Homo sapiens: one gene and its partners. Each later gene encodes a partner of the first gene's protein in a complex. Each region holds a gene or a part of one and is shown on either strand. Other genes may lie near its edges. The genes, in order: OGT, RBL2, THAP3 and KRT7. A codon is read from its position in the direction of its gene.

The links.
Region 2: the proteins of OGT (region 1) and RBL2 are in contact, whole or in part, in a crystal structure (PDB 4XI9), measured with the Homo sapiens proteins. Residues at the interface, in NP_858058.1 of Homo sapiens: His506 (codon at 6,537), His508 (codon at 6,531), His509 (codon at 6,528), Asn567 (codon at 4,760), His568 (codon at 4,757), Pro569 (codon at 4,754), Tyr642 (codon at 2,276), Thr643 (codon at 2,273), Lys644 (codon at 2,270), Gln849, Phe878, Val905, Ala906; in NP_001310537.1 of Homo sapiens: Thr417, Pro418, Val419, Ser420, Thr421, Ala422.
Region 3: OGT (region 1) and THAP3 share a complex: the UniProt entries of both Homo sapiens proteins name them as parts of the THAP1/THAP3-HCFC1-OGT complex.
Region 4: the proteins of OGT (region 1) and KRT7 are in contact, whole or in part, in a crystal structure (PDB 4XIF), measured with the Homo sapiens proteins. Residues at the interface, in NP_858058.1 of Homo sapiens: His506 (codon at 6,537), His508 (codon at 6,531), His509 (codon at 6,528), Asn567 (codon at 4,760), His568 (codon at 4,757), Pro569 (codon at 4,754), Tyr642 (codon at 2,276), Thr643 (codon at 2,273), Lys644 (codon at 2,270), Gln849, Phe878, Val905, Ala906, Pro907; in NP_005547.3 of Homo sapiens: Val9 (codon at 2,939), Phe10 (codon at 2,936), Thr11 (codon at 2,933), Ser12 (codon at 2,930), Arg13 (codon at 2,927), Ser14 (codon at 2,924), Ala15 (codon at 2,921).

The regions. Positions count from the first base shown.
Region 1 is NC_000023.11:71,557,104-71,564,122, reverse strand, and holds part of OGT (UDP-N-acetylglucosamine--peptide N-acetylglucosaminyltransferase 110 kDa subunit), read right to left. Parts: coding exon 7,018-7,019; intron 6,929-7,017; coding exon 6,827-6,928; intron 6,631-6,826; coding exon 6,451-6,630; intron 4,857-6,450; coding exon 4,698-4,856; intron 4,536-4,697; coding exon 4,446-4,535; intron 2,349-4,445; coding exon 2,223-2,348; intron 1,277-2,222; coding exon 1,106-1,276; intron 994-1,105; coding exon 877-993; intron 795-876; coding exon 624-794; intron 1-623. UniProt on the Homo sapiens protein: Catalyzes the transfer of a single N-acetylglucosamine from UDP-GlcNAc to a serine or threonine residue in cytoplasmic and nuclear proteins resulting in their modification with a beta-linked N-acetylglucosamine (O-GlcNAc).
Region 2 is NC_000016.10:53,437,471-53,444,489, forward strand, and holds part of RBL2 (retinoblastoma-like protein 2), read left to right. Parts: intron 1-1,545; coding exon 1,546-1,676; intron 1,677-5,187; coding exon 5,188-5,388; intron 5,389-7,019. UniProt on the Homo sapiens protein: Key regulator of entry into cell division. Directly involved in heterochromatin formation by maintaining overall chromatin structure and, in particular, that of constitutive heterochromatin by stabilizing histone methylation.
Region 3 is NC_000001.11:6,620,157-6,627,873, reverse strand, and holds the start of THAP3 (THAP domain-containing protein 3), read right to left. Parts: upstream 3,007-7,717; 5' UTR 2,920-3,006; intron 2,725-2,919; 5' UTR 2,656-2,724; coding exon 2,582-2,655; intron 1-2,581. Other genes in the region: PHF13 (PHD finger protein 13), read right to left, coding at 6,237-6,463, 7,537-7,717. UniProt on the Homo sapiens protein: Component of a THAP1/THAP3-HCFC1-OGT complex that is required for the regulation of the transcriptional activity of RRM1.
Region 4 is NC_000012.12:52,228,621-52,236,259, reverse strand, and holds the start of KRT7 (keratin, type II cytoskeletal 7), read right to left. Parts: upstream 3,018-7,639; 5' UTR 2,964-3,017; coding exon 2,640-2,963; intron 1,106-2,639; coding exon 894-1,105; intron 1-893.

The DNA of each region.
Region 1 (7,019 bases):
TCTAGAGGTCAGAGATCTTTGCCTTACACTCTCTTGATAGAGCTACTTATTTAAGCATGCAATATATTATTTATTGAGTACATACTACATTACTGTGATTAAGACATGGGCTCAGTAATTCAATTCAGTAGAGGATACAAACACAGGGAATTATCATCTGTTGTGCTGTATGTAATGATATATTCCAAACATTACAGAGGTATAAAAGACAGGTACCAATGAAGTAGGGATGGAGACGTTAGCGGTAAGTACGGAAATGGATTCCTGGAAGAGCTGTCTGAACTGAACGTTTGAGTAGGATTTAGCTAGGGAAAGGATGGGTTTACAGAAGCAAGAAACTGTATGGAATCTACACATAGTTCATCATGTAAGAGAGTAAAGCCACAGGCAGGGAATAACAAGATATTAACACAGCAGTTTCTCAGTAAGTAATAATCTGCTGGCTGAATCCAGGAGACTTTTAAAATCAGACACACCTATATAAGATGCACGTTTCCACTAAACTCATTTCCTCATCCATAAAAATGGTGATAATGATACTTGCCTCCTAGAGTTATCATGAGGTTAAGGGAAATAAATGCATACTTGGCGGGACATATAATGGTGTATTATTATCTTCTCACCTGAGTAGTTGCCAGTCCATTGCTAATACTGAATCCATTAATTGTTATTTGAATCTGTCCTCGGTTAATCATTTCAATAACTGCTTCTGCAATAGTATTCATAGGAATAACAGGCATATTAAGAGCTGTGTTACTGCTATCTGCATTGTCTCCTCCATCAGGACACTTCATCTGAAAAAAAAATGCATCATTAGGGAAAAGATCGTGAATGCAGTTAACTTTATTTCAATGACAATACTGACTAGGTTCTGACCTTGACAATTTTCACATCTGGTAGACTATCAAGAAATGCTTTGAGGTCGATGCCATTCAGAACTATCCGATTGTCATAAATGTGCCCATTGGACTTAAAATCGATGACTGCTTTTTTCTAATGGAAAAAATAGTTTCAGACATGTCTTTTAGGATTTACATAGACAATAGCAAGGAAATAAAAAGCTACAGTTCTTTGAAATTCGTCCATAGCACTGTTTCATACCTACCTTCAGGTGAGGGAACATATTAGCATGATCACCAATAAAAAAAGTGTGGGGCATATAAGCCAATTTCTCGGAATACTGCTCAGCAACTTCAGCTGGCGAAGTTTCCTGATCAGTGATAATATAATCCATGAAAAGCGCACCACTCGTCCCAGGGTATCCCAGCCACATTGCCTTAAAAAAATCAGATCAAAAACTGATTAAGAACTTTTATCAGTACACTTACCTCTAAATTCATCAAGTCACATACATTAAATATGTACAACTTTTTGTATGTCAACTGTACCTCAATAAAGTGGTTTTTAAAAAAAGAACCTAAAGGTGCCAAAATTAAATAAGTAAATAAACAAGGAGGTCTAACTCTTTTTTAGAGACAGGATCTCACTCTGTTCCCTAGGCTGGAATACAGTGGTGCAATCGTAGATCACTACAGCCTCAAACTCCTGGGCTCAAGCAATCCTTCTGCCTCAGCCTCCAGAGTAGCCAGGATTACAGGCACTTGCCACACGCACAGCAAGGCTGACTTCTTTAGCCGAAAGCAATGAAGCAGTTCTATAAGAGAGACTCTTACTCTGTCACCTGGGCTGGAGTGCAGTGGCATAGTGATAGTTCACTGCAGCCTCAAACTCCTAAGCTTAAGCAATCCTTCCACCTTAGCCTCCCAAATAGCTGGGATCACAGAGGCACACCACCACTCTGGCTAATTTTTTAATTTTTTGTAGAGATAGGGTGTTTTGCTTTGTTGCCCAGGCAGGACTCAAACTCCTGGTTTCAAGAGATCCTCCTGCCTAAGCATCCCAAAGTGCTGGGATTACAGGCGTGAGCCACCATACCCGGCCTGTATTTCAGACTAACTTTCAAAATGCTAAAATGTTCTTCAAATTTGCAAGACAGAGTAACTGTTCATAGCCAACCATGAATTGCATGTCTCTATATACATGTACCTATAAGCACTGTGCTCTACACTCTTTTTGTCCTGTGCATTTCAACAACTTAAAAAAATTAAAAGTATGTCTGCCCTACAGTTTCAAATATCAGTTAACCAGAGGGAGGAAAAGCAGCACCTCACTGTATTCTTAGCCAAATACATGTTATAAGTGATGACTGTTAATTTGTTTACCTGAATAGGAGCTGGCCTGAGAGCAAAAAGCTCATTTCGAGCGCCCTTAGTATAGCCATTCATATTTACAAGGATATGAATTCCATCCTGATGGATGCGATCAGCTGCTTTTCCATTGCATGGAATCTACAGAATACAAAATAAGAACTCACTATGTATAATCTCAGATCAATTAGTTTTAATGACATTTAGTTTTAATGGCATTTAGTTTTAATGGCATTTAACATAATTCAGATTCCCAGATGGAAAAGAGGTAAGAACACAAATTAACTACATTAATTCGGGCACAAATATGGTTGACTGTCATTAAAATGGGCCCAAAGCATTAAAGAAACAGAACACAAAGGAAGGAGAGTTCACTTCTGGATTGAATGTATGAATAACAACATATCACAGAGAAATTGGTATTTGAAATTTGTAATCTTTTTTTTTTTTTTGGTAGGGATGGGGTCTCACTATGTTGCCCATGATGGTCTCAAGCAATCCTTCCACCTCAGCCTCCCAAAGGATTATACACGTGAGCCACAGCACCCAGCCTAGAATTGGTATTTGAAAATAGGTCTTCAAAGACGAATAGGAGTTTGAAGGAGTTTAACAGAATACAATCTCAGTAGAGAACAGTATGAATGAAGAACTAGAGTAAAGTGTGAGGGAGTTTAGAAAATGGTGAGTAGGCCGGGCATGGTGGCTCACATCTGTAATCCCAGCCCTTTGGGAGGCCGAGGCAGGTGGATCACCTGAGGTCAGGAGTTCGAGACCAGCCTGGCCAATGTGGTGAGACCCCGTCTCTACTAAAAATACAAAAATTAGCCGGGTGTGGTGGCAGGCGCCTGTAATCCCAGCTACTCGGGAGGCTGAGGCAAGAGAATCGCTTGAACCTGGGAGGCAAAGATTGCAGTGAGCCGAGATCGTGCCACTGCATTCCACCCTGGGCGACAAGAGCAAAACTCCATCTCAAAAAAAAAAAGGGTGAGTAATTCACTTCTATTTAGTATAGGGTATACAAGATGTTGAATGGTGAGTTAAAGTATTGACAAAGTTGTGGCAAACAGAGAAAGGTTACAAAAGCTATGCTGAAGAGTTTAGACTGCAATCAATCAGCAGTGAGTCCCTAAAGGTCTCAGAGGTAGAAAGAGGTATGCTTCTTGGTCACAAAGAGTCCAACTGTGTATCAAAAATGGCCAGGTATACTTTTGAAGCAACAGCTATACTGCAAAATTTGTTAGTACATACTATTTATTAAATGAGAAGTCTCAAAACCTTTCTGCTAGGACTTCAGTGATTCATATATATATACACATACACATGTATATTTATACATATATGCATACATATCATACCTGCATGTGTATGTACATACATACATGTGTGTACACACACATATAAAGAGTATATTATCTCTATTAGTCAAAGTGGCTAATAGAGTCTACAAAGAAAACACTGTAGCCTACATACTCAGCAAATTAATTCCCCCATAGGTTTCAATCTTAATTTATCATAAAACTTACTCTCCTAGAGGATACAACAATAGAACAAGTACAGAAATAAAGATAACCAAAGGCAAAGGCCCATGGAAACTGATGAACCATAGTTCATCTATTTTTTCTTTTTTTTTTTTTTTTTTTGAGACAGAGTCTTGCTCTTGCCAGGCTGGAGTGCAGTGGTGCGATCTCAGCTTACTGCAACCTCCGCCTCCCGGGTTCAAGCGATTCCCCTGCCTCAGCCTCCCAAGTAGCGGGGATTACAGGAATGCACCACCACACCCAGCTAATTTTTTGTATTTTAGTAGAGACGGGGTTTCACCATGTTAGTCAAGATGGTCTCATCTCCTGACCTCATGATCTGCCCGCCTCGACCTCCCAAAGTGCTGGGATTACAGGCATGAGTCACCACACCCGGCCCTATTTTCTTTAAAAGACCTATTTATTCTTCTCCCAAGTCACCATTTTGTCAATATTTATTAAGTATCTTCTGTCACAAGTGCTGGCTCAATCTCCAGAAAAGTTGTATGTCCAAGCACAAGCATAACACATTTCAGTTTCATTTGCAACCTCGGAAAAAGCCATGCTGATTAACACAAATGATCAAGGAAATAAGATCAACACAATTGCCTATATGTGGTACTACAGCATTTAATACTTATCATCAAAAATAAACTATATGCTAATAGTTTTATTTAAACTTGCTCAAAATAAAAAGTTAAAGTATGAGAGTTTCATCTACCTGAGAAAGATCAATGAAATGATTGGCTTCTGCCATCACCTTCACTCGGAAGTTTGTGCCATCGTCTGGGCTCAGGGCATAACAGAACACCTGAAAGGCAGCACATGGCATATTTAATAACATTGGCTCAAATCTTTCTGGCTCAAATCTTTCCAAAAGACACTAGGTTTCCATGCCTCATGGTGACAAGCCAACATTGTGGGTTTTTTCTTTTTTAAACAAATAGTGATTCTAGAGAAACACTAGTCTTACCTCAAATTTATCAGGATTGTGCATGCCTGGAATAGACTGCATAAGGTGAGAAGTAGGATGATTCCCAAAGTCGGAACTCACATATCCTACACGCAGCCGACCATCACTGAGCTTCAAGTCTTTTGGATGTTCATATGGTGGTTTATGAAGAACATTAATCTATCAACAGAATCCAATGCTTGTTAGTAAAATCTACATAAATTTTCATCTAGGAAAACTGACGAAAAACACACCAAACCTATACCTCACACCTGTTGAAAAAGGTCTGCCCAGAGCATTTAGTTAATATTGCCAGAGAGATGCAACCTCAGCACTTTATGTAATATGCTTCATACTTTGACCTGCTCCTGAGATCTATAAAGCATGAGCAAATCCCAGCGCTCTGGGAAGCCAAGGAGGTGGATCGCTTGAGGTCAGGAGTTCGAGACCAGCCTGGCCAACACAGTGAAATCCAATCTCTACTAAAAAAAAAAAAAAAAAAAAAATTAGCTGGGCGTGGTGGCACATGCTTGTAGTCCCAGCTACCTGGGAGGCTGAGGTGGGAGAATCGCCCAAACCTGGGAGGTGGAGGTTGCAGTAAGCCAAGGTTGTGCCACTGCACTCCAGCCTGGGCAACAGAGCAAGACCCTGTCTCAAAAAAAAAAAAAAAAAAAAAAAAAAGTACGAGCAAATCTAACACTTGTAGGTATGAAGCAGTATGGACAGAGCATGGTTTCCTCCCGCATTTTAGAAAATTCTATAGGGAAACATTTTCTAAAAACAAAATTATGGCTGGGGGCAGTGGCTCATGCCTGTAATCCCAGCACTTTGGGAGGCTGAGGCAGGTGGATCACCTGAGGTCAGGATTTCGAGACCAGCCTAGCATGGCAAAGCCCTATCTCTACTAAAAATACAAAAATTAGCCAGGCGTGGTGGCACACGCCTGTAATCCTAGCTCCTCGGGAAGCTAAGGCACGAGCATCACTTTAACCTGGGAGACAGAGGTTGCAATGAGCTGAGATGGCACCACTGCACTGCAGTCTGGATGACAGAGACACTATGTCTCAAAAAAAAAAAAAAAGTACACCTAGCACTCCAATCTATTATCCAACCTTTGATCCAATCCTTGATCAAGTACTGCTCTAATTCTCAAAGGTGAATACAAAATACCAAGCACTCCATTAAACATGATGGCTGGCCAGGCGCGGTGGCTCACACCCGTAATCCCAGCACTTTGGCCGGGCGAGGTGGGCAGATCACTTGAGCCCAGAGGTTCAAGACCAGCTTGGGCAACATAGCAAAACCCCATCTCTACAAAAAACACAAAATTAGGTGTGGTGGCATGCGCCTGTAGTCCCAGCTACTCAGGAGGCTGAGGTGGGAGGATCACCTAAGCTCGGGGAGGTCAAGGCTGCAGTAAGCCATGATCACACCGCTGCACTCCAGCCTGGGCGACAGAGCAAGACCCCGTCTCAAAAAAAAAAGAAAAAAAAGATAAAAGAAAAAAAAATTATGGCTTTCAACTTAAAGAAAAGTACCATCAGTCTATCATTAGTGTTTAAGTGAAGGAGTTAAGGATTCCGTCTTATGAAGTGCAGGGGGTTATACTCAGGACACAATGGAAGGGGTTCTGAAGTGGCCCACAAAAGTTTTATTTCTCGACTTGGGTGGTGTTCACTTTATAATCGTTCATTAAGCCACAGATTTGATTTTTACAGTTTTCTGTATTTGTGTTTTAGTTTACAACAAAAAGATTAAAACAAAAGAATCACACCTTATCTAAGCACAGGTTGCCGTGCCTCTCAGCAATAGCCTTCCTGAAGCCATGAGAAAGAGGATATAGCATACTATGATGAGGATGCACAGAAGGCAACCTATTCTTCTCTAACTGGTCAGCCACAATACTGACCAACTTCTTCATTCGCTCATCATAGTCTGTCCAATCACAGACAATCTAGAGAAAGCAAAAACAAGTTATTATCCAGAAAGTCCTATCCCAGGATTTAATATTTGATATGTCTTTGGCCTAAAGTAATGTCAGATAGCCTATTAAAAATACTATTTCCAGTCAGGCTTGGATTCTTATGGCATACAACAATTAAAAAGCTATTACAACACTGAGAGCCAATTACTGGCCTGTTATTCTTTACCTGCAGGCAATGAGCCAAGTTACAATAAGCATCAGGAAAATCAGGCTTAAGTTTCAGAGCCGTGCGGTAAGAAGCTATGGCTTCTGGAATATTCCCTGAATCCTGGAAAATAAATAAAGCAGGATGGTAAAAAATTTCCAAAAGTTAAATTTTAGGTGTTAAACTGCACATATTATAATAAACAGTAGTACCT
Region 2 (7,019 bases), on another chromosome or scaffold:
TTCCTCGCTTTTATAGGGAGAGGAAAGTTGTATCACTTCTTGAGTAAAAAGAATTGTGACGATCTTTTACAAACAATGCCTTAAAAATTATTATTTTTGAATGATATCTGGTAGTGGATCCACAATAGTCTCATTTGGTTATACAAATAAATTTTATGTATTCATGTATGTGTTTTGATTAGGTATAAAATTAGTGGCTGAATATCCATTCAAGCTTAATTTTGTATTTCTATCACTTTTCTAGATTTTGAGCAAGATTAAAAATATAAACAATAGGCCAGGCGCAGGGGCTCACGCCTGTAATCCCAGCACTTTGGGAGGTCTAGGTGGGCGAGTCACGAGGTCAGGAGATCAAGACCATCCTGGCTAACACATTGAAACCCAGTCTCTACTAAAAATACAAAAAATTAGCTGAGCGTGGTGGTGGGCACCTGTAGTCCCAGCTACTCAGGAGGCTGAGGCAGGAGAATGGTGTGAACCTGGGAGGCAGAGCTTGGAGTGAGCCAAGATGGAGCCACTGTACTCCAGCCTGGGTGACACAGTGAGACTCCATCTCAAAAAAAATAAAAAATAAATAAAAATAAACAATAATATTGTTTGCATTACTATGGCTATATAGCAAATTGCCTTAAAACTTAGGGGCAGAAAGCAATTTGTTTTGGTCACAGGTTCTGTGAGTAAGGAATTCAGGCTGGGGACAGTGTGGATGTCATGTTTCTGCGTCAAAATGACTGGTACCTCACCTGGAAGACTTGAGCAACTAGGTACTGGCACAGCTGGAGCTCGTTGGGCATCTCTGTATGTTTGTTCCATGTGGTCTCACCAGCATGGTGATCCAGGGTAGCTAAATTCTTACATGTTGGTTCAGGACTCCGAAGGCACATGTCCTAAGAGAGAGAACCAAGTGGAATCTATACTGCCTTGTATAATCTTTTAGAATTACATAGTTTCACTTCTACCTCTGCAATTATTGATAGAGACAGTTAATCAGTGTGAGGGAACGCAGACCCTTGCCCAGGTCCAAGGTGAGGGAACCCTCTCTACCTCTCAGTGGAATAATGTTAATGTCACATTATAAGAAGAGCCTACGGGGCTGGGTACAGTGGCTCACACCTGTAATCCCAGCACTTTGGAAGGCCAAGGCGGATGGATCACTTGAGGCCAGGAGTTCAAGACCAGCCTGGGCAACATGACAAAACCCTGTCTCTACAAAAAATACAAAAATTAGCCAGGTATGGTGGCGCACTTCTGTAGTCCCAGCTACTTGGGAGGCTGAGGTAGGAGGAGTGCTTGAACCTGGGAGGTGGAGGTTGCAGTGAGCCAAGATTGCGCCACTGCACTCCAGCCTGGGTGACAGAGCAAGATTCCATCTCAAAAAAAAAAAAAAAAAAAAAAAAAAAAAGAGCGTATGAGATAGGGTCATCATTGAAACTAAGTTTCCCACAAAAATATAAACAACACTTTCAATTTAAACATACTTTTAAAAATATTGAAATATTTATATGTAGCTTTTTAACTAAAAATCAATTTTCTTTTCTTTTACAGGGAAATGATCTTCATTGGTTAGCATGTGCCTTATATGTGGCTTGCAGAAAATCTGTTCCAACTGTAAGCAAAGGGACAGTGGAAGGAAACTATGTATCTTTAACTAGAATCCTGAAATGTTCAGAGCAGAGGTAACTATGTTAGAGTTTGACAAGTAGAGTATGGCTAATGTAAGCTCATAAATCATAGTGATAGTAAGAATTATCTCTGTTTATCATTTTCTGAGCATTTGTACCTGTGGACTGGTGAAATTAGATGCTAAAACTAGCATCTAATGATTTTCCTTTCTTTATATCACAGTTAATATCCATTATATTTTACTTCTTTGGTGAAAATATTTAAATTTTAATGTTTTAGGCACTTGTATGGCAGAATTTATTTTTAAAGTTTAGGACATTGTGTAATATTGGGAGAAATGAAGGATATTGAGAAACTTTAGGAGATACTCCAAGTTGAAAAGGTAAATAAAATATTATTTGCTATTATACTTAGAAATATGTGCACAGGACTTGTGGTCTTAATATAAATGGAACATGTAAGTATTTCTCAGTTTCCTGTTTGGAGGATAAATGACATGATTATAATCCATTTTAGAAAGGGTCAAATATGTTTAAAAGAAGAGGCAGAAATTGCTTTATCTGTTGTGTAATTAAATTGATTACATTTATTTTTTGTGCCTTTTAGGTGAATTTTCTTACATGGCTTATTAAAGATAAGTGGAAAAATGATGTTTAGCATTTTGGGGGAAATTACCACTGTCAAAATTTATGGAGTTAATGGTTAAAAAATCACTTACTAAATAAAAAAATTAACTGGGTGTGGTTGTGCATACCTGCAGGCCTAGCTACTTGGGAGGCTGAGATGGGAGGATCACTTGAGCCCTGAATGATGGAGCAGCACTGCACTCCAGCCTGGGCCACAGAGCAAGACCTTGTCTCCAAAAAAAAAAAAAAAAAAAAAAAAGAAGGTTACTATTAAAATAATTAGCAGGCTGGGGGCGGTGGCTCACACCTGTAATCCCAGTAATCCCAGCACTTTTGGAGGCCAAGGTGTGTGGATCACTTGAGGTCAAGAATTGGAGATCAGCCTGGCCAATATGGTGAAACCCCGTCTCAACTAAAAATACAAAAATTAGCCGAGTGTGGTGACATGCGCCTGTAATCTTAGCTACTCAGGAAGCCGAGTCAGGAAAATCACTTGAGCCCAGGAGGCAGAGGTTGCAGTGAGCACTATTGCACTCCAGCCTGGGTGACAAGAGCGAGACTCCATCTCAAAACAAATAAATAAAATAAAATAATTCACAATGTCATGTTTTAGCTGACGTTGTGAATTTTAGTAATCTTTTTTTAACCTTTAACTCCATCCTGAGTTACATTGACCAAAGAATCAGTATCTAGAATTATATCAGGAACTACTAACAGGGTTAATAAAATGAATAAAGAACATGACTTCACAAAGGTTATAATTCACATAGCTAATAGATACAGGAAGAGATATTCACTGTCACTAATAAAGACTTTCAAAGTAGAAAGATAACATTTCATTCTGTTTTTTTTGAGATGGAGTCTTGCTGTTTCACCCAGGCCAGGGTGCAGGGGCGTGATCTCAGCTCATTGCAGCCTCTGCCTCCCAGGTTCAAACGATTCTCCCGCTGTGGCCTCCCAAGTAGCTGGGATTACAGATGCGCACCACCACACCTGGCTAATTTTTTGTATTTTTAGTAGAGACGGGTTTCACCATGTTGGCCAGGCTGGTTTCCAACTCCCGACCTCAGGTGATCCACCCGCCTTGGACTCCCAAAGTGCTGGCATTACAGGTGTGAGCCACCATGCCTGGCCAACATTTTATTCTTATCATTGGGAAAATTTGAAGTCTGGTATACCAAGTTTGGTCACTGTACAGGGAAACAGGAACTCTATTTTTTTTATTTTTCAGTTCTTTTTTTTTTTTTTTTTTTTTTTTGAGATGGAGTCTCACTCTGCTGCCCAGGCTGGAGTGCAGTAGCTCAATCTCTACTCACTGCAACCTCCACTTCCCAGGTTCAGGTGATTCTCATGCTTCAGCCTCCCGGAGTAGCTGGGATAAAGGCACATACCACTATACCTGACTAATTTTTGTATTTTTTGTGGAGACCAGGTTTCACCGTGTTGACCAGGCTAGTCTCGAACTCCTGACCTCAAGTGATCTACCTGCCTCGGTCTCCCAAAGTGCTGGGATTACAGGCATGAGCCACTGCGCTCAGGCAGGAACTCTATATTGCTGGTGTACATTGGTGAGAGTCAAAATTGACACAACTACTTTACTAGCAAATTTGGTGGTATCTAGTAATATTGAAGGTGCACATTCTCTTACTGTACTTCTTGGAGTAGTCCCCAAAGAAACTCCTGCACACATGTATAAGGATGTTTTCATTACAACATGTTTTGTTATCATGGAATATTAGAAACAACCTAAATTTCCATTGGTTGGGGAGTGAATGCAAAAAGTCATTGTATGTTCATATGAAAGAATGTTTTTAGCAATTAAAATGAATATATCTTACATATCAACATTAATGTCAGAAACATTATTGAGTGTGAAAAAGCAAGTTGCAGAATACCACTGAAGTATGATAGCATTTATATAAAATGTAAAAACACGTAATAAGATATTGCTTATTGTTTACACATACATGTGTATGTGTAGTAAGTGTGAAAACATAGGAAGGATTAAGACCAACTTTAGAATGGTTTTTATCTTTGGGGTAGAAGGGTAAGGATGGGATTAGGGAGGAGTATAAAATGGTAATTTTGACTGTTTCTTTTTCTTTTTCTTTTTCTTTTTTGAGACAGAGTCTCGCATTGTCGCCAGGCTGGAGTGCAGTGGCGTGATCTCGGCTCACTGCAACCTCCGCCTCCCAGGTTTAAGTGATTTTCCTGCCTCAGCCTCCTGAGTAGCTGGGATTACAGGTGCCCGCCACCACGCCCAGCTAATTTTTTGTATTTTTAGTAGAGATCGGGTTTTACCATGTTGGCCATGCTGGTTTCAAACTCCTGACCTTGTGAATCTCCCACCTCGGCCTCCCAAAGTGCTGGGATTACAGGTGTGAGCTACTGCGCCTAGCCTTGACTGCTTCTATAGTGTTGCTAGTTTAAAAAAAAATCTGAAGTGGCAGGAGGAGGTGGCTCACACCTGTAATCACAGTGTTCTAGGAAGCCAAAGTAGGAGGATCACTCAAGCCCAGGAGTCTGCAGTGAGCTGTGATCTTGCCACTGAACTCCAACATGGGTGATAGAACGAAACCCTATCTCTTACAAAAACAAAAACGACAAAATTTATTTAATATATTAACATTTAAAAAATCTGGCAGTGAACCAACGTGAATGTTGGTTAGGTTACTCTTGTTAATTTTGGTTTGTATTTTCAAATATTTCATAGTTAACAAATACTTTAGGTAACCTAAACAAAATGGATTAGGAGGATCAGAGGAATATACCAATCTGTAAGAAATTAAGCTAGTCAGAGACATGAGTTGTGATTTTATTTCACTGTCTAAAAGTAATATAATTTAATGCGATAATATTGATTTACTTTTGAATACTTACTTTTGTATACTTTAGCCTTATGTTAATTATGAAATATCTTGTTTGTCTTTAATACCAGCTTAATCGAATTTTTTAATAAGATGAAGAAGTGGGAAGACATGGCAAATCTACCCCCACATTTCAGAGAACGTACTGAGAGATTAGAAAGAAACTTCACTGTTTCTGCTGTAATTTTTAAGAAATATGAACCCATTTTTCAGGACATCTTTAAATACCCTCAAGAGGAGCAACCTCGTCAGCAGCGAGGAAGGAAACAGCGGTAGGTTTTCTTGTTGGTTCATCAGGAATACACGTTAGTCTGTGCTGCAGTGTTGATATTCTGCTAGGTTTTTTTTTTCTGGTTTTAAAAAAGAAATAAGATTTAAAAAATCTTTTTCCTCAGTCGTTTTCTTTTAATGATGCTTTTTTTGCTTTTCATTGTGGGTTAGCCATGAAGAGTGGCTTTTTTCATATTGCTAAATGTATACAGGTCTTTGTTTCTATAAACTTTCATTTGTCTTATTTTATTTTATTATTATTTTTTCCTCAGTGATCCTTGTTCTGAAACCTTCCTTTTTCATTTAAGCAACAAAAAATGCAGACTGTACAAGTCAGACTTAGGGATTTTCACCCTTTCGCCGCCTTGGAGATGTATCTGTATCTGTATCTGGATATATATATTTTTTATTGCGCAGGGGCCATGCTAATCAATGTATTGTTCCAATTTTAGTATATGTGCTGCCGAAGGGAGCACTGCCCTAGATATAGATCACTATATTAACCACTATATTTTCTACTAGTGATTATATAGACTATTTTATGTCAAACTGAGTAATAAATAATCCCCTTGAAATGACTTCTCTATGTATTTTGATGTTTATAATGAATTCAGAATAGAGAGACTGGATTGGGAAAAGACAGGAGAACTGAAACTATTATGAATTTGTGCTTTCTGATCACTTCTGCAAAGTCTATAAGCATGCTCTGACTCAGTGTTTTCTACCTTTCCTGATAGATAAAGGCAGTTATGGAATACACATTTTCCTTCTTTATCATTGAAAGTTTTTTCATAAAGTAGAAATGAAAATTCTAACAATTAGAAAAATGTTGACAAGAAAAGTAAAGGGAAAGGAGTTAAAATTATTTGGCTAGAATAAATAATGTTTGCTTCTCTTTAAATATAAAAGTTTTCCCAGACTGTGAAGGATGTTTACATTAAGTGTAACCTTTTAAAAATAAAATGGGGGAATGACAAACCAGGAGGAAAAAAAATTTAAAAAAACTAGAACTATTTACATTTTAATATAGATGGCACCACTGATACAGAAGCATCTGGTCTAGCTCACTTACAGTTTTGGGGAATTGACTATTTAAAATGAAGCATTCTGAGCCAGGCGGGTTGGCTCACGCCTGTAATCCCAGCACTTTAGGAGGCTGAGGCAGGCGAATCACCTGAGTTCAGGAGTTCAAGACCAGCCTGGCCAACGTGGCAAAACCCCGTCTCTACTAAAAATACAAAAATTAGCTGTGCGTGGTGGTGCATGCCTATAATCCCAGCTACTCGGGAGGCTGAGTCAGTAGAATCCCTTGAACCGAGAGGCAGAAGTTGTGAGCCAAGATCGTACCATTGCATTCGAGCCTGGGCGACAAGAATGAAACTCCATCTCATAAATAAATAAGTAAACAAATAAAAGGAGGTATTCTGGCTGAGTGCCTGTAATCCCAGCACTTTGGGAGGCCAAGGCGGGTGGATCACTCTAGGTCGGGAGTTCGAGACCAGCCTGGCCAACGTGGCGAAACCCCGTCTCTACTAAAAATAAAAAAATTAGCGGGGTGTGGTGGTGGGTGCCTGTAATCCCAGCTACTTGGGAGGGAGAGGTGGAAGAATCACTTGAACCTCAGAGTTGGAGG
Region 3 (7,717 bases), on another chromosome or scaffold:
GTGAGATGGAACCTGGGTCCACCCTGGCTGCTGTGGGACCAGGCATTGGCAGGAAGTGGTAATGAGAGGGCAGACTTGGATGTATTTTGAAAGCCATGCAGTAAGGTTTGCCTGTAGATGGTAAAATTGAGAAGGAAGGAGTTTCATGTTGGAGATAAAATTAAGTTACAGGACGGCAGGTTAAGGGGATCAGAAGTTTGTTTTGTAGCAGCTGAGCATGGTGGCTCACGCCTGTAATCCCAGCACTTTGGGAGGCCAAGGCAGACAGACTGCCTCAACTCAGGAGTTCAAGACCAGCCTGGCCAACATGGTGAAACCCCATCTCTACTAAAGATGCAAAAATTAGCCCAGCGTGGTGGCGCACTCCTGTGATCCCAGCTACTTGGGAGGCTGAGGCACAAGAATCACCTGAACCAGGGAGGCAGAGGCTGCAGTGAGCCGAGACTGCGCCACTGCACTCCACCTGGGCAACAGAGTGAGAGTCTGTCTCCAAAAAAAGAAGTTTGTTTTTTATGTCAGGAGTTAAATTTGAGGTGCTTTTTAGGCTCTCCATGTGCTGGGGTGACAGGCGGCCACACGCATCTGGAGATGTCAGTGTGGCGGCCAACCCTGCGGAACCGATAAGCCTGGGTGAGATGGGCCCCTGGGGAGCAAGTGTGGCTAGAAGCCACCCCTGGGCCATGGCCCACACCCCAGGGCTCCAACACTTAGTGCTGGAAATAAGGAGGATCCAGCAAAGGAGACTGAGAAGAGACACCTGTGGCCAAGAAGTGTACCAGACGCCATGCGGGAAAAGTGACCCAGGCTCAGGGGTCAGTTGTGTGAAATGCTATGCAATCGATCAGTGTCACAAGGCTCACTAGTGATGTGACAGAGCTCTCGTGGGAGTGGAGGAAACGACTTCAAGAGAGAAGGCGCAGCAACTCCATCCCCAAGTACATACCTGACAGAGGCAAAACAGATAGATGCACTGCAACACAAGTCCCACCAAAACTGGCCAAAACAATGTTTGTTTTGTTTTGTTTTTTGAGACGGAGTCTCGCTCTGTTGCCCAAGATGGAGTGTAGTGGTGCGATCTCGGTTCACTGCAAGCTCTGCCTCCCAGGGTCAAGTGATTCTCCTGCCTTAGCCTCCTGAGTAGCTGGGATTTCAGGTGCGCGCTACCACGCCCGGGTAATTTTTGTATTTGTAGTAGAGAAGTAGAGACGGGGTTTCACCATGTTGGTCAGGCTGGTCTCCAACTCCTGACCTCAGGTGATCCACCCAGCTCGGCCTCCCAAAGTGCTGGGATTACAGGCGTGAGCCACCACGCCCAGCCTCCAGAACCATGTATTTGTCATCCAAAAAATGGGGCCACCCAAATGCCCTTCAATTGTAGAACAAATCAGTAAATTCTGGCACTTGCATTCAATGGAATATTATGTGGCAACGAAAGCGAATGAACTGCAATCCACTCTGATAGCGGGCAGGATAGGGTTCCCTTTGGGCAGGAGAGAGGAGGAGGGCCTGGGAGGGGGTCCAGGTAGGGGTTCTTCTCGGGGGTAGTGATGTTTTATTTCTTATTTTGAGATGAGGTATCGCTCTGTCACCCAGGCTGGAGTGCAGTGGCAAGATTATAGCTCACTGCAGCCTCGAAGCTGGGTTCAAGCGATCCTCCTACTTCAGTCTCCCGAGCAGCTGGGACTACAGGGGCACACCACCTTGCCTGGCTAATTTTTTTAAATTATTTGTAGAGGTAGGGTCTCCTTCTGTTGCCCAGGCAGGTCTCGAACTCCCAGGCTCAAGCGATCCTCCCGCCTCGGCCTCCCAAAGTGCTGGGATGACAGGCTTGAGCCACCGCGCCCAGCTGGTAACGTTTCAGTTCAGTGACGTTCACTTGGGGAAAACTCGCTGGGCTGTATACTTATGATTCGTGCATTTTTCTGCATGTACATTACGTATACTTCAAGCAAAGCATTTATCACAAAACAGAACAATGGGAGCAGAGGGAATGGGAACGATGAGCACAAGCCCCCCTTCGGAATGTGCCCAAAAGTGGGTAGAGAAATGGTGCCGTGACTGGACCTTGGAGAAAGCGCAACTGTGACTAATGACGATTGCTCCTGGGCCGGGCCGGGCCGGGCCGGGCGAGTGCTGGAGCAGACTCCAAAGTCTCCAGCGTCCTCCCGCGACCCTGCAGAGTCCCTTCCCACTGCCAGGACGCCCCTGGGGGTTCCACTCCTCCACTGCACTGCCCAGGTGCCGGGCTCCCTTCAGGACCGCGCGCGGCGGGGGCTGCAGCGACCAGGGACACAGCAAACCCCGGCCGCGGCCCGCTAGTCTGTTCAGCAAACACCTGCTCCGCTCCCTGCACGTCCCGGCCCTGGCCCCGCCAGGTGCGCCGCTGCCCCTCCGTCCGCCACTCCCCGCATCCCCGCGGCGGGCGCGGCGGCGCCAGCCCCTCTGGGCCCAGGACCTCGGCCTGTCCCCGGGCCCAGCGGCCGCACGCCTTTGGGCCTCCCGCCCGGCGCGCCAAGGCCTCGGAGTCGGTCCGCGGGCCCCGGGTCTGGGCCTCCCGCGCCCCCGGGTCCCCGCCTCTTACCGGTGGAAGGTGAGCTGCTTCCTGCGGCTGCTGTAGCGGTTGCAGCACTGCCGGGCCGCGCACGACTTCGGCATCTCGAGCCAGGCCTGGCTGCCCCCAACAAAGATGGCGGCGGCGGCGGGGCCTGCGGAGAGGGGAGGGACCTGCGGGGAGGGGCGGGGCCGCTGGGAGGTGGTGACGGGCCTGGCTCGCCTCCAGGGCGCGCTCATCCTGCCATCCCAGCCACCCGCGTCTCCCCAGGGTCGGACGGGACCCGGGGCGCCACGTAAAGGGGTGCTCCGGGCCCCAATTCAGGCCCGAAACCCCAACTCCTAGCCTTGGGCCTGTGCAAGTCTTACCCCATTCGCCAATGCTGGTCGCCTTTCACCTCCTTGCTTTGAGCACCCAACCAGGACGCATAGCCACTCACAGGCTTGGACAACTGGAAACCAACGGCCAACCCCTCAGTGTTTTTAGGGCTTTGAATTGTGAATAGGTCTGGACTCCTCTGACGTCACTGGAGGTGGTACTAGTTGGCCACTGGTGGTGTCAGTTCAGAGGCCAGACAGCTCACTGCCCTTAAGTTTGGTCACAGGGAACCCCCAAACGTGAAGAGGCAAAAAGGGCAACTGAAGGGGAGGGAGATTCCAGTTCAGGCCTTGCAGAAACTCCGAGGCTGCAGCTTTCTCAAAGCAGCCTATAGGGAAGGCGTCATCTTGTAAGAAGAAAAAAAAAAAAATCGGCCAGGCGCAGTGGCTCACGCCTGTAATCCCAGCACTTTGGGAGGCCGAGGCAGGCGGATCACCTGAGATCAGGAGTTCAAGGCCAGCCTGACCGACATGGTGAAACCCCATCTCTACTAAAAATACAAAAATTAGCCGCACATGGTGGCGGGCACCTGTAATTCCAGCTACTCGGAAGGCTGAAGCAGGAGAATCTCTTGAACCCGGGAGGTGGAAGTTACAATGAGCCAAAATCTCATCACAGCACTTCACAGCCTAGGTGACAAGAACGAAACTCAAGTCTCAAAAACAAAAAAAAAATCAAAAGTAGGCTAACCACTCACTGGGGCTTGAGCTAATCCTCAATCTGATGAAGAAACTGCAAAAACCATTCACATCTACTCGTCCTGTGGTTTGTTTCTAAGGAATTCACCAGCAAGGTACCTTAACACCGTGGGCATTTTCCATCCTGCTAAGTGCACACTGAGACGCTGCCTTCCCAGAGACTTGATGTAATCATGCTTTGGGGAGGTAGCAAGGAGAAAAGAAACACAATTGTCCTTCAGCACAGAACGCAATCGCCTGAACCTTGAATCATGAACCTCAAAGTAGCAATATATTTATTTACAAAATATACAGTTTCACAGAAACAGCTTCGCTTTATACACATAAACTTTAAAATTACACAGAACCATGTAAACGATGTGAAGTGTCTGGCCTGGCCAAAGCCAATGGGAGGGCCTACTTTTGGGGTGACATCCCTCCCTCCCCTCACTTCATTAGCCACCAACCAGGAACCACAGATGGGTCGTGCCTAATTTGCATATAAAGAAGCTGATTGCAGCTGCCCAGCTCAATCTAACACAAAAACCAAGGTGTCCGACTTCTTAGACACCACCCACAGGGACAGATCTGCTAAAAGAACAAAAATGCAATCAAGGAAACAAAATGGAGATGAGTATCACATGCATTCCAGAGGCATCGAACCTTCTAGCACACGTGACAGTTGCCAGGGCCGGCAGTTCCATTCTAAAGTCACATGGATTCTTAAATGCACCTTTAAAAGCTTGTGGAATTTTTTTTTTTCAAAGCAGAAAAACACTTTGGAGCGCTGGTTATTCACGTGGTGAAGACACTGGACAGGCGTTATCTCAGGGTAGATCTTTGGCAAATTCCTCTCCAATGCGTCCTGGCTGTTTGCCCTCGTCAGTTTCTAAACCAGCTTACTATTTTTCTCTACCGAACCTCCCCCTTGGGGATCTTCACAATAAACTGGCTTCAGAAACTATTTCTCTCTAGTTTCGTGTTAATACAAGCAACAGAACTTTTAAAAAAATAAGACGGTTGGACAAGTGTGAAAGATACTAGGACAAAAAAAATGCCTCTGATTAGCCAAATTACGGTTCAAGCCCCTTGGTGCTTCAGTGGGAGAAGGTGGGAAGAGTCTGCCTGGTGGCCTGGCACAAAGGTGCCACATGAAGGGGAAGCCCCCAGCAGTGAGAACGCGGGCCCATCCCACTGAAAACAAACATGACTTGCTTGAGCATTCTTCCCTTTCCATGCCTTAAAGAAACAATGCTTATGAAAACCTACCAATCAATTAGAAAATGTTTTGAGAACAAGTACTTGAACTGCTGAAGAGCAGTGTTCATTTCAGAGAAAGCCGGAGCCCCTCTCCCTCCCAGCCCCAGAACTACCAGTGTTCCAGGGCACCCTGCCCTCGAGCAGAGTTCTTCCACAGCCTCCGGCATCAACTCCCAGGTTTTTCCAGAGCTGGCCCTCACAGGGGCCTCCCAGGTCCAGGATCCCAGCTGAGATTTAAGGAACTCGGCACAGTTCCAAGGGGTCATCCTGAAGGCCCATGTTACCCTATCACTCACTCACCAACTCAAAACAGAAAAAGAAAGACTCAAGTCCTAACTGTACCCTGTGGAACCGGCAGGCCAGCCTGTCTAAAGGGCACACAAGAGTCACCCAACGGAGAGGGCTCCCTCCCAGCTCTCCTTTACCCTATTCTTTGGAGGAACACCATGCGGGTCCCAGTGATTGCCTAACCTTTATGCTGCTACCAGAATGAGGTGAAAGGAAGAGACAAAGACAGAACCTATGAGTTCCCACACTCGCAAACAGCTGGCCTGAGCCCACCAAGACCTCACACACCAACTAAGAGGGCACTCAGCAAGAAATCAGCCAATACTTTTGGCTGTATCGTGCAAAAAGACAGGGTTTTTACATCGTGCAAAACAGGAAACTGAGTTATGAACACGGGCCATCTCAACCCCCCAACCAACTCCCTTTCCACAGAGAAGTGGCCACATTGTCCCTTTTAACAAACAGAAGGAAACCTAAGAACCACCAGCTGACCCGCCAGCCCAGCGCCCTTCCAGGGGAGCCCGAGGCCTCCCGCCAGTGCCTCCCCCAGCCGGTCAGGCAGCAGCTGAGGCAGGCAGAGGGCAAGCCACTAAGTAGGGGCAACTTGGATGGCTGCTGTACAGACACTTTTGGTAAAAGACTTAACACTCAAGAAAAAGCTTACACGTATGGCTGTTCATTAACAGGCTGGGGAAACCGAACACCTCTCCCCAACACAGTGGAAGCAGAATAACAGCTGGCACTGAGCCCAATCAGCGGGAATCTCTTAGCAATGATAGCAAAACGCACAGCTACCACGGACCCTCATTTTCAAATGAGCCAAACCCGCTGCACGTGGGTGTCCAGTCCACCTCCACTGCAGGGAACGCAGCTCTGGCAGCAGCTCTGGCTGGCAAAGGTCGCATTCGGTCACCGGCTATGTACAGTTTCTACCTTGGACAGCCTGTCCTTTTGCTTAGGCACCTAAATGGCAGGGATCTGCCCGCACCAGAGCTGAGGGTTCTGTGCTCAACTAAGAGAAGGGCAAAAAAGCCCGCGGTCGCTTCCGATTCCACGCTCGCAGCCTCCTCGCCAGCCAGCAGTCAGTCCAGGAACAGCTTCCGGGAGCCCGTCCGCGAGCGGTTGGAACGGCGGATGTCAAACTTGGAGTCCCGGCACTTTTGGCAGACAAACACTTCTGGAACATTGGATTTCCGGATTTTCGCACAGGACAGGTGAATCCAGGTGTGGCACTCATTACACTCGATCATGGGGCGGCCGGCAAATGGCTTCATGCAGAAGCAGGTCACGAGGTCCCAGGAATCGTCATCTGGAAGGAAAGATACTCTCAAGGAGGGAAGAGAAATTCCCATCATTCCTCGCCATCAGCTGGGCTTCCATGAAACCCATTAACTCTACTGACGAGAACACTTCCAACTGCCACTCGAAGCTGACACTTCTCTCTGAAAAGGCACGAGGGGCTCCAAAATGTGTGGGAACCAGGTATTACCCAGGAGATGCTTACTTTTTTTTTTTTTTCCCTAAGACAGGGTCTCACTCTGTCACCCTGGCTGGAGTGCAGTGGTGCAATCATACCTCACTGCAGCCTCAAACTCCTGCAGTCAAGCCATCCTCCCACCTCAGCCTCCCAAATAGCTGGGACTACAGGCACACACCACCACACTCGACTATTGTTTTTTTTTTTTTTCTTGAGACGGAGTTTTGCTGTCGCCCAGGCTGGAGTGCAATGGCGCGATCTTGGCTCACTGCAACCTCCACCTCCTGGGTTTAAGTAATTCTCCTACCTCAGCCTCCTGAGTAGCTGGAATTGCAGGCGCGCACCACCACGCCCAGCTAATTTTTTCTTTTTTTTTTTTGTATCTTTAGTAGAGTCGGGGTTTCACCATGTTGGTCAGGCTGGTCTCGAACTCCTGACCTCGTGATCTGCCTGCCTCGGCCTCCCAAAGTGCTGGGATTACAGGCATGAGCCACTGCGCCCAGCCTTTTTTTGTATTTTTGCAGTGACAGGGCTTTGCCATGCTGCCCAGGCTGGTCTCCAACTCCTGAGCTCAAGCAATCCACCTGCCTTGGCCTCCCAAAGTGCCGGGATTACTGGTGGAGCCACCGTGCCCGGCCTGGATGCTTACCTGGATGCTTACTTAGAACTATACCCTTTTTATGTTCTAAGGTCTTAGAATCTCAGCTGTCTCTAGTGGCAATCAACCCCTTCCTAAACATCTCGATATCCACATTCCTGCAGCTTTTCTCCTCCTTGGACAGTGGGGCTGTCACACTCTACGGAAGGCACCAGACCCTGTGCCCCAGAGAGATGACCACTTAATAAAATAACCTCTCTTCTAACCACAAGCCAACAAGGGTCATCATCCTTCAGGGACCACTCACCTGAGTCCACCATGATGTCCTCATCATTGCCAGTGCTGTCCTCATCTCGGAACACCACCTGCTTTCCCTGCCGGACGATAGTCCGTTTGCCTTCAGTTTTTATTTCTTTGACCTGATCAGGTGACACAGTGGCACAAGATCCACTCGAGGGAGTATCGGAGTCCCAGCCCGAGCAGGGGTC
Region 4 (7,639 bases), on another chromosome or scaffold:
ACCTGCTATGGGACTAATCCTGTTGACTTTTGCCCTAGGGAAGTGGGAGTGTTGGGGGGGGGCACTCCACAGAGACCTTGTTTGCTCTCCTCCAGTCAGAGCCAATGTGTGACTCCTGCTTAGTCACACAGCCACAGGCAGGGGACAGAACTCACTCACTGCCCCAGTGCCCCTCAGGTGTGCCAGGGTGGGGCCCAGCCTGAGCTTCAGGCTTTTGTTTCTATTCAATGAGAAAAGAGTGCAAAAAGACCTGTCCTCAAAAGCCCCAGTCCCAGCCTTCCTGAGCCTCCTTCTGGCTCCTGCCATGACCAGACCCACCCTCAGCCTCTGCGGCCCTCGCATGGCTCACAATGACCATTTTCCCTCTCTGCTTCTTTGCTTCCCAAGTTGGCTCTGTGTCCTCTCCTAGGAGTCAGGGACCTAAAATTCAAGTCCCAGCTCTCCCAGTGACCTTTGCAGTGTGAGCTCAACCAAGTCCCTAAACTTCTCTGGTCTCTAATTCCTCACCTGAACAAAAGAGAGTTGCTCTAGAATAATCTGTGAAGGTCATACCAGTTCTGAAGCACCCCTGTCAGAAGACACTTTCTGCCCTACTCTCTCTCGGGGCCTTGGTCAGACACCCAAAGGAGACAGTGCAGGTCAGGGCTGGGCTGAGACATTTCACTGGGACTGAGTCAGGGGAAAAGACCAGAATGATTTGGAAACAGCCCCCAGGGACAAAGAGGAGAGAGGAAAGGCAGGAAATGTGTTGGTCAAGACTGGCCCCTCAGGGAGTTATTGGACTGAGCAGCTGCATGCTGATTCCTGAAGCAGGGGGACTTGCACAGGGTCAGCTCATGAGGGTCACATTGGCCCGGGGCAGGGGTCTTCGCATGTGGCACAGGGGGCATTACTTATTCTTGAAGTCCTCCACCACATCCTGCATGCTCCGCAGCTCCGCCTCCAGGCGGCCCCCATCCACCTGCAGTGCCTCAAGCTGACCCCGAAGGCCAGCAATCTGGGCCTCAAAGATGTCTGGGAGGCGGCTGCTCTTGGCCGACTTCTGCTCCTGCAGCAGCGTCCACTTGGTCTCCAGCAGCTTGTTCTGCTGCTCCAGAAACCGCACCTAGAACGGGCGAGAAGGAGGAAACTCAAGAGGAGCCAGAGCGTGCCACCCACAGCGGGATTGAGGAACATCATCTTTAGCCACTTAGCAGAGCCATGCTCCCCCTGGCTGTTTCCCTGCCTGGGGCTTCCAGCCCTCTCCCTTTGGACTCCAAATCAAGTGTCCTACAGAGTGATCCAGGAAGCAGGTCTGCCTGGTGCACGGAAGTGCCCCGTGGTTGACTCTCGACGAATGTGCTCCAGGGCCTCCTCTCCACTTCACTCCCCATCACATTACAGGTGGTGTTCTCCACCTCCCTATCTGAACAGCCACCTCTTCCTGTCAATGGATCATGAGGATGACCAGGCCCAGCCCTCCCTTCTGTCTGGGACCTCTTCTCTTCCTTCCTCAATATCCTTTCTCTCCTTCCCCTTTCTCCAGCAAGGCCTCAGGACAGTCAATCCATGGTAAAATGACCCCAGCCTGGAGCCCACAAAGGCCCTTAAGGAGTAGCCGGTATGACTGGAGGTGGGAGGCAATAGAGGCCTCTGCAAAACCAGCAGCTCAGGGCCCCAGGCCCTGGGGACCACAGAGAGTAAGACGGTGCAGCTCAACACATGGGGGAACCTGGGCCTGGAGCAGCTTGGGGAGGCCCCTATGAAATCTAAAAGACCGGTCTGGGTGAATGGCGAAGGAAAGGAGAACGTGAGGGAGGCGGGTGTGGGAGTACACTTCGTCTAAGCTGAGGAAGGGGGCCCTGGCCAGAACAGCCCAGCAGGGCCAGCCCTGAGTTCCTGGCTTTGGCAGCACTCCTCCCAAACCCACCAGTCAAGTCTGCCCTCGCCCCCTCCAGCGGCCCCATGTGTGGCGGAGGCCAACAGCCAGGAAAAATATCTCCAAAATGGACCCCTTTTTGAGGGCCCTCTCTGCCACTCCCTGCCCCCAACTGGGCTGTCTTCAAGGGCAGGTATAACCTCTCCTCCTGCCACCTAAGGGAGGCTGGAGGACCAGGCAGGTGGGGGAGGGGAGGGGCGGGAGCCCCCCCCCCTCCCCCGCCCCACCGACTGCCGCTCTAATCTCCAGCATCTGCATCCGCATCAGCATCTGAGAGAGCCTGGGTCTCCCCCTCTGGGAAGGGCGTGCCATCCAACTCCATTCCTGACTCCACACGGTCCTCTCTCAGGGAAAGGGTCCCAGAGAGAGAACTCCTGGCCTAGGCCTCTGGAACTCCTAGTCCGAGGCAAAACTGGTCCAGGTGACCAACAGGCAGCCAGCGAGGGCAGCCCTACAGGACTCAGGCCCGCACTCCGGGAGGAAAGGGAGGGGCAGCTGGGCAGCTTGCTGGAAGGGAGGGCTTGGAAACCGAGGGGATAAAATAGCCACGGGGTTCATGCGAAGGAGGAAGGACCCCCAGATCGTGTCCCCAACACTGGCGGAAAGACAGAAGGGCGGCAGTGCTCCCCAGCGCCTGGCCCGCGCGCAGGCAGGGCTAGTTAGGGCGGCTGGTGTGGTCTGGAGCGCGGCTCGAGGAGAGGCGAGGTCCAGTCCCGCTCACCTTGTCGATGAAGGAGGCAAACTTGTTGTTGAGGGTCTTGATCTGCTCGCTCTCCTCCTGGCGCACCCGCTGGAGGGAGGGGTCGGCGTCCAGCCGCAGCGGGGCCAGCAGGCTCTGGTTAATGGTGACCTCGCGGATGCCGGCGCCCACCGGGCCCCCATAGGCAGAGCGCACGGCCACGCGCGGCCGTGAGGCGCCGAGGCCGTAGAGGCTGCTGCTGCCAAGGCCGCCGGGGCGAGCGGAGCTCAGGCGCACCTGGGCGCCGCGGCCCGAGAAGGCGGCTGAGCGCGAGGTGAATACCGGGGAGCTGAAGTGGATGGACATGGTGGCTGGGCCGGGATGGACCTAGCGGCGGGCGAGGAGGAGCGCGCACTCGCTGACCTCGGGGACACTCCGCGCCTTTTATCCGCGGGAGCGGGCGGCTGGGCTTCCACAGGTAGGGGCGGGGCTGCCGCGGGCCACCTTTCTCTGCTGCCAGGCCCCTCCTGGGGCCGCCCTCCGCCCTCTGCCCGCCCGCCCCGCCGAAGCCCAGGCTTTCAGTCCAAGCAGGGATGGTCCGGAGTAGGCAGGAGCGCCATCCCTAGACGGCCGCAGAGAACAGCGGGGGACCGCAGTTCCAGCCCATTGGAAACGGACTCAGTGAGGGAAGGCTTCCCGGAGGAGGATGCTTGGAGAGGGAGTGAAGAACCTAGAGATCCCTGAGGCCCAAGCAGAGAGACCCAGTGGCAAGAGACTGGGGGAAGGGGTGGGCTGAAAAGTTCCAACCCAGGAGTCAACGCCCAGACGTCCCCATCCTCCAGGCTGCTGAAGCCAGAAAGGCATTCCTTACCGCTCTCCCTCACACCGATCCAGCTCCTCCTTGAGAGATCAGCTCACTTGTTCAGGGGTCTGACCCCTCCTGGCCCAGCTAGTTTCCCTGGCTGCGTTCCTTCCTACTTCATTTCCCATAGAAACTAGGCTGAGAGAGACACACGACCGACCGCACCTCTGGCTCCTCCCCTCCCCACTCCAGTAGGCATCGGAATCCCAGGGACCTTGGGAATGCTTACCCTGGACCCTCACCTCCCGGACCCTCCACTCATATTCCTGCCCATTTATTTTATGCGTCCCTGTACAGGAAGGGGACACTTGTGTGTATTTGTGACACTTTGTGGATGTGTGGACACTTTGTGGATGTGTGCACACGCCTGCAGGCCTCTGGGCTCTGCTGTGCTCACACCCCCAGGCATATGCACCCGCATGTCTGAGCCTGCTTACACAGATGGGGGTCTGTGCGTGCATCCTGGGCGAGGGGGCAGCTGTGGCTACACAATGGCACACATTTTCATGCCTGCCTGAGTGCGTGTGCTTCTGTTAGCACTCAACTCTCCTCCCGCTCCCTCCACCATTTTCCTGTTTAAAGGCCCTCAGCTTTCATCATCTTTCTCCCGTGAAGCCACCACCAAACAATTCCCAGCAGTTTCAAACCCAGTCAAGAGGGGTAATCCTAGTGCTGGAACCGAATACCGGACAAAGCCTGAGTGTTGGCCTCACTTCCCGGTAGGGCCAGCCATGCTTGCCACACCCTGTTCTCAGGCCTGGCTTCCGTCTGCCCTTAGCCCACCTCTAGCCCCTCCCAATAAGCTGGCCAGGTTCGTTACCTCAGACCTAAGCCCTTGGGGGAGACAAGGGTGGGGACGGAATGTCCTTCCTGCTTGGCCATTTCAGTTAAAGCACAAGGACTTCCAGTGAGGCTAAAGACTGTCACTCCTTCTCAGTGATCTTAGTGAAGGCTCACCAGCCTCCCTCCCTGCCTCCCCTCCTGACCCTAGCCATTGGTGTTGGGTCAGCTCAGGCCAGAGGCGGAGGGGTGCCCAAGGAGACCTGCTGTGGTATCGGCTGTGGAGCATGTATGTGTGCATAAGACCGAGAGAGATTCGACCTGGAATTGTGCCTGGTTGTAGCTTGAAGAGCATACGGATTACCTGGTCCTGTGATATTTGCATTCATAGGAATCTCACTGCCCTCCTTCCCCAACGCCCAAGCAGGCAAAAAAGACCAATTGTTTAATTTACACACACACACACTCCAACTTCCTCACCCCTCAGGGCTCATCTTCAACTCTGTTTTTACCACTGCCTCTCACACCAACGCCTGCTCTCCCATACCTCCACTAACAAGTTCTGCCTCTGGCCCTCTCATCCGTCCCCATCTCCAGCCCCCTACAGGATCTGCGCTCTGGAGGCTGTGCCCACCTAGACCAGGAGTTCCTGCATCCACTTCTCCCCTAAAGCCTGGCTGGGAAATCTTTGTCAGGGCACTGCTGTTGCCTTGAGGCCCTGGACATGTCACTGCCCCTCCCTGGGCCATGGATTTTTCACCCAAGATGAAATCTCCAGATTCCATACCTAGAGAGGACTGGGGAGGACAATGGGAAGGAGAAAAGGTCTCTGGGCTTTTCAGGCTCACATCTGGGGTTGTGGGTGGGGGCCACTTTGAGCAACATTTCTGCATTCCAGGGCCTGCCTGACATTCACCCCTTGGCCTCTCCTCCCCTCTCTGAAGCATTCCAGGCCGTTCCAGCCCTGGCCAGTCTCCTCCTGCCTCTCCATTCACAGGCCAGCACTAAGAGCCCACTCTGTGCCAGGTGGCACACGCAAACATCCTCTGGAGGGCTTCCCAAAGCGCTGCCAACCTGAGAGGCTGCAGATAAGATTCCTGCCCACAAGAGTTCACAGCTCACCCATCCATCCAGCCTCTGTCTCCACCCCACCCGGACTTTGTTGGCCTCACCAAGACCACCTTAGGAAATCCTGGGCAGAATCATGAGGCGAGTTATTCCCACAGTCTTTCCCCATTGGTCATCTGCCTGCCCCAAATGCAGGCTCCTGTCTCCGTAGCACTCTGTCACACACACACAGCCAAGCACACCCCCACTGTCTTCCCACCACCCTCCTAGCTGTCCCACCTCATGCTCTAGAACTGAGCTATGAACTCAAAGCAGCCCCAGGTCCTCCACATTGCCTGGCTCTGCTAAACCTGCCCTAGACACCTCTGCCCCAGTGGCCCCTGCTGCTCCTTTCCCAGAGAGGAGGCATTCTGTTTGGCTCCTTGCTGCACTTAGAGAACTATTACTCATTGTCTATCCCCTAAAAACACGTCCTCTGACTCATAAAGAAAAAAAATATTAATTTTTTCATTATCTTGGAATTCGAATTGGAATGTGGTATATTTGTGAAAAAATAGAAACATCCTAAATGCCTGTCAATAGGGAAGTGATTAAAGGAATTGACCAATTCATTTAATCCAGTGAATTGACCATTCACTGGAATGCTATTGGTTGAAAAGAAAATCCTTTATATACTGATTGAGTTTTTAACCTTTATATATTGATTGCACAGATCACTGTGATTCTAAAAATCCTGTGGGCTCCTGTGATCCAGCTGCACCACTCCTGCCTCTCTCCCCTGAGGCTGATCCCTACTGGCCCCACAGCCACCTACTGACCTGACTCCCTTCATGCTCACTGTGGACTCTGGCACCTGGGTCCTGCTTCCTCTCCACCCCGGGCTCCCTCATTCTCAGTGCAAATGACCCACCCAGCATCTTACCCTTTGAGTTCCTTGAGCTCCTCAATTCTTTCACTGCATCCTTTTTCTCTTGCCTACACCTGAGGTCACATTCTAGATCCTAAACTGCAGGACCATTGATAATAACTCTCACTGTCATTGGTGGATTCCTCAGCTACACCAGCACCCCCAGTCCTGAACTTGGCTGTTCCGTTTTCTCCCCACCCACCACCCTCCTTTCACCTTTCTTTCCAGCTCAGGCTCCCTGACCATTACTCTCACCCTCTGACCCCTGACTCTTCAGTCCCCACGTGGATAAATCTCCAGCCCTATTCAGCCTAAACCTCAGACTCCTCTCCTCGAGCTCTAGCCTGCAAAGCATTACTGGAGAAAGCCACATCCTTGGGGTCGGGTGTGACCACCAATGCAATCCCCATCTGAGCGGTATCCCCTTTGCCACTGGGCACTTCTCTCTGCCTTTGGTCAGCAGTGTCTCCTGGGCCTCCTCGTTGCTGGCCATTGACATCCTAGCATTTCCCATGTACCTGCTGAACTTTATGGGCTTGTAGAACTGGATGTGCAAAAATGGTTCCCCTACTTCTTGGTGAGGTTCACTGTGATGTACAAAGAACAGATGGCAAGCAAGAAGCAGGAGCTCTTTGGCAACCTGCAGGAGTTTGTGGGCCCCTCCAAGAAGCTCTCCCTGCTGGAGGTGGGCTGTGGCATGGGGGCCAACTTCAAGTACTAGCCACCTGGGTGCAGGGTGACCTGTATTGACCCCAACCCCAACTTTGAGAAGTTTTTGATCAAAAGCATTGCAGAGAACCAACACCTGCAGTTTGAGCGCTTTGTGGTAGCTGCCAGGGAGAACACGCACCAGGTGGCCGATGGCTCTGTGGACATGCTGGTCTGCACCTTGGTGCTGTGCTCTGTGAAGAACCTGGAGCAGAGTCTCCATGAGGTGTGCAGAGTGCTGAGACCGGTGAGTGAGTGGGGGAGGTGTGCTAACCTGGATGGAGTATCAGGCTGCATCCGGACACCTGTGGGCTCAGGCACAGCTCACACTGAGGGCGACCTTAGACAAGTCACTTTACTCATTTGTTTGTTCATTATTTATTCAACAGACATTTCAAGAGATTTTAAGAGTGCTGACTATGTGTAGCAACACAGTTTTCCTGGAGTGGGAAAATTAGTCTCAGAGGGATTAAATGAGTTACGCAAAGACACATGGCTCACAAAAATGGCAGAGACACAACTAAACTGAGGCACCTTAATTTCTAGGCCAGAGACCTTCTCACCATGCTGCTCCATTGGTGGCTTTCAACCTGGTGTCTTCTAAATCCCATCACAGAGTCCGGTTTTCTAAAGATGAGGATTAAAAATTCCCTATAGTGCATGCCAGAACATCTCCCTTCCCTAACAAATAAGAACTTGTAAGTACACAGATAGCCA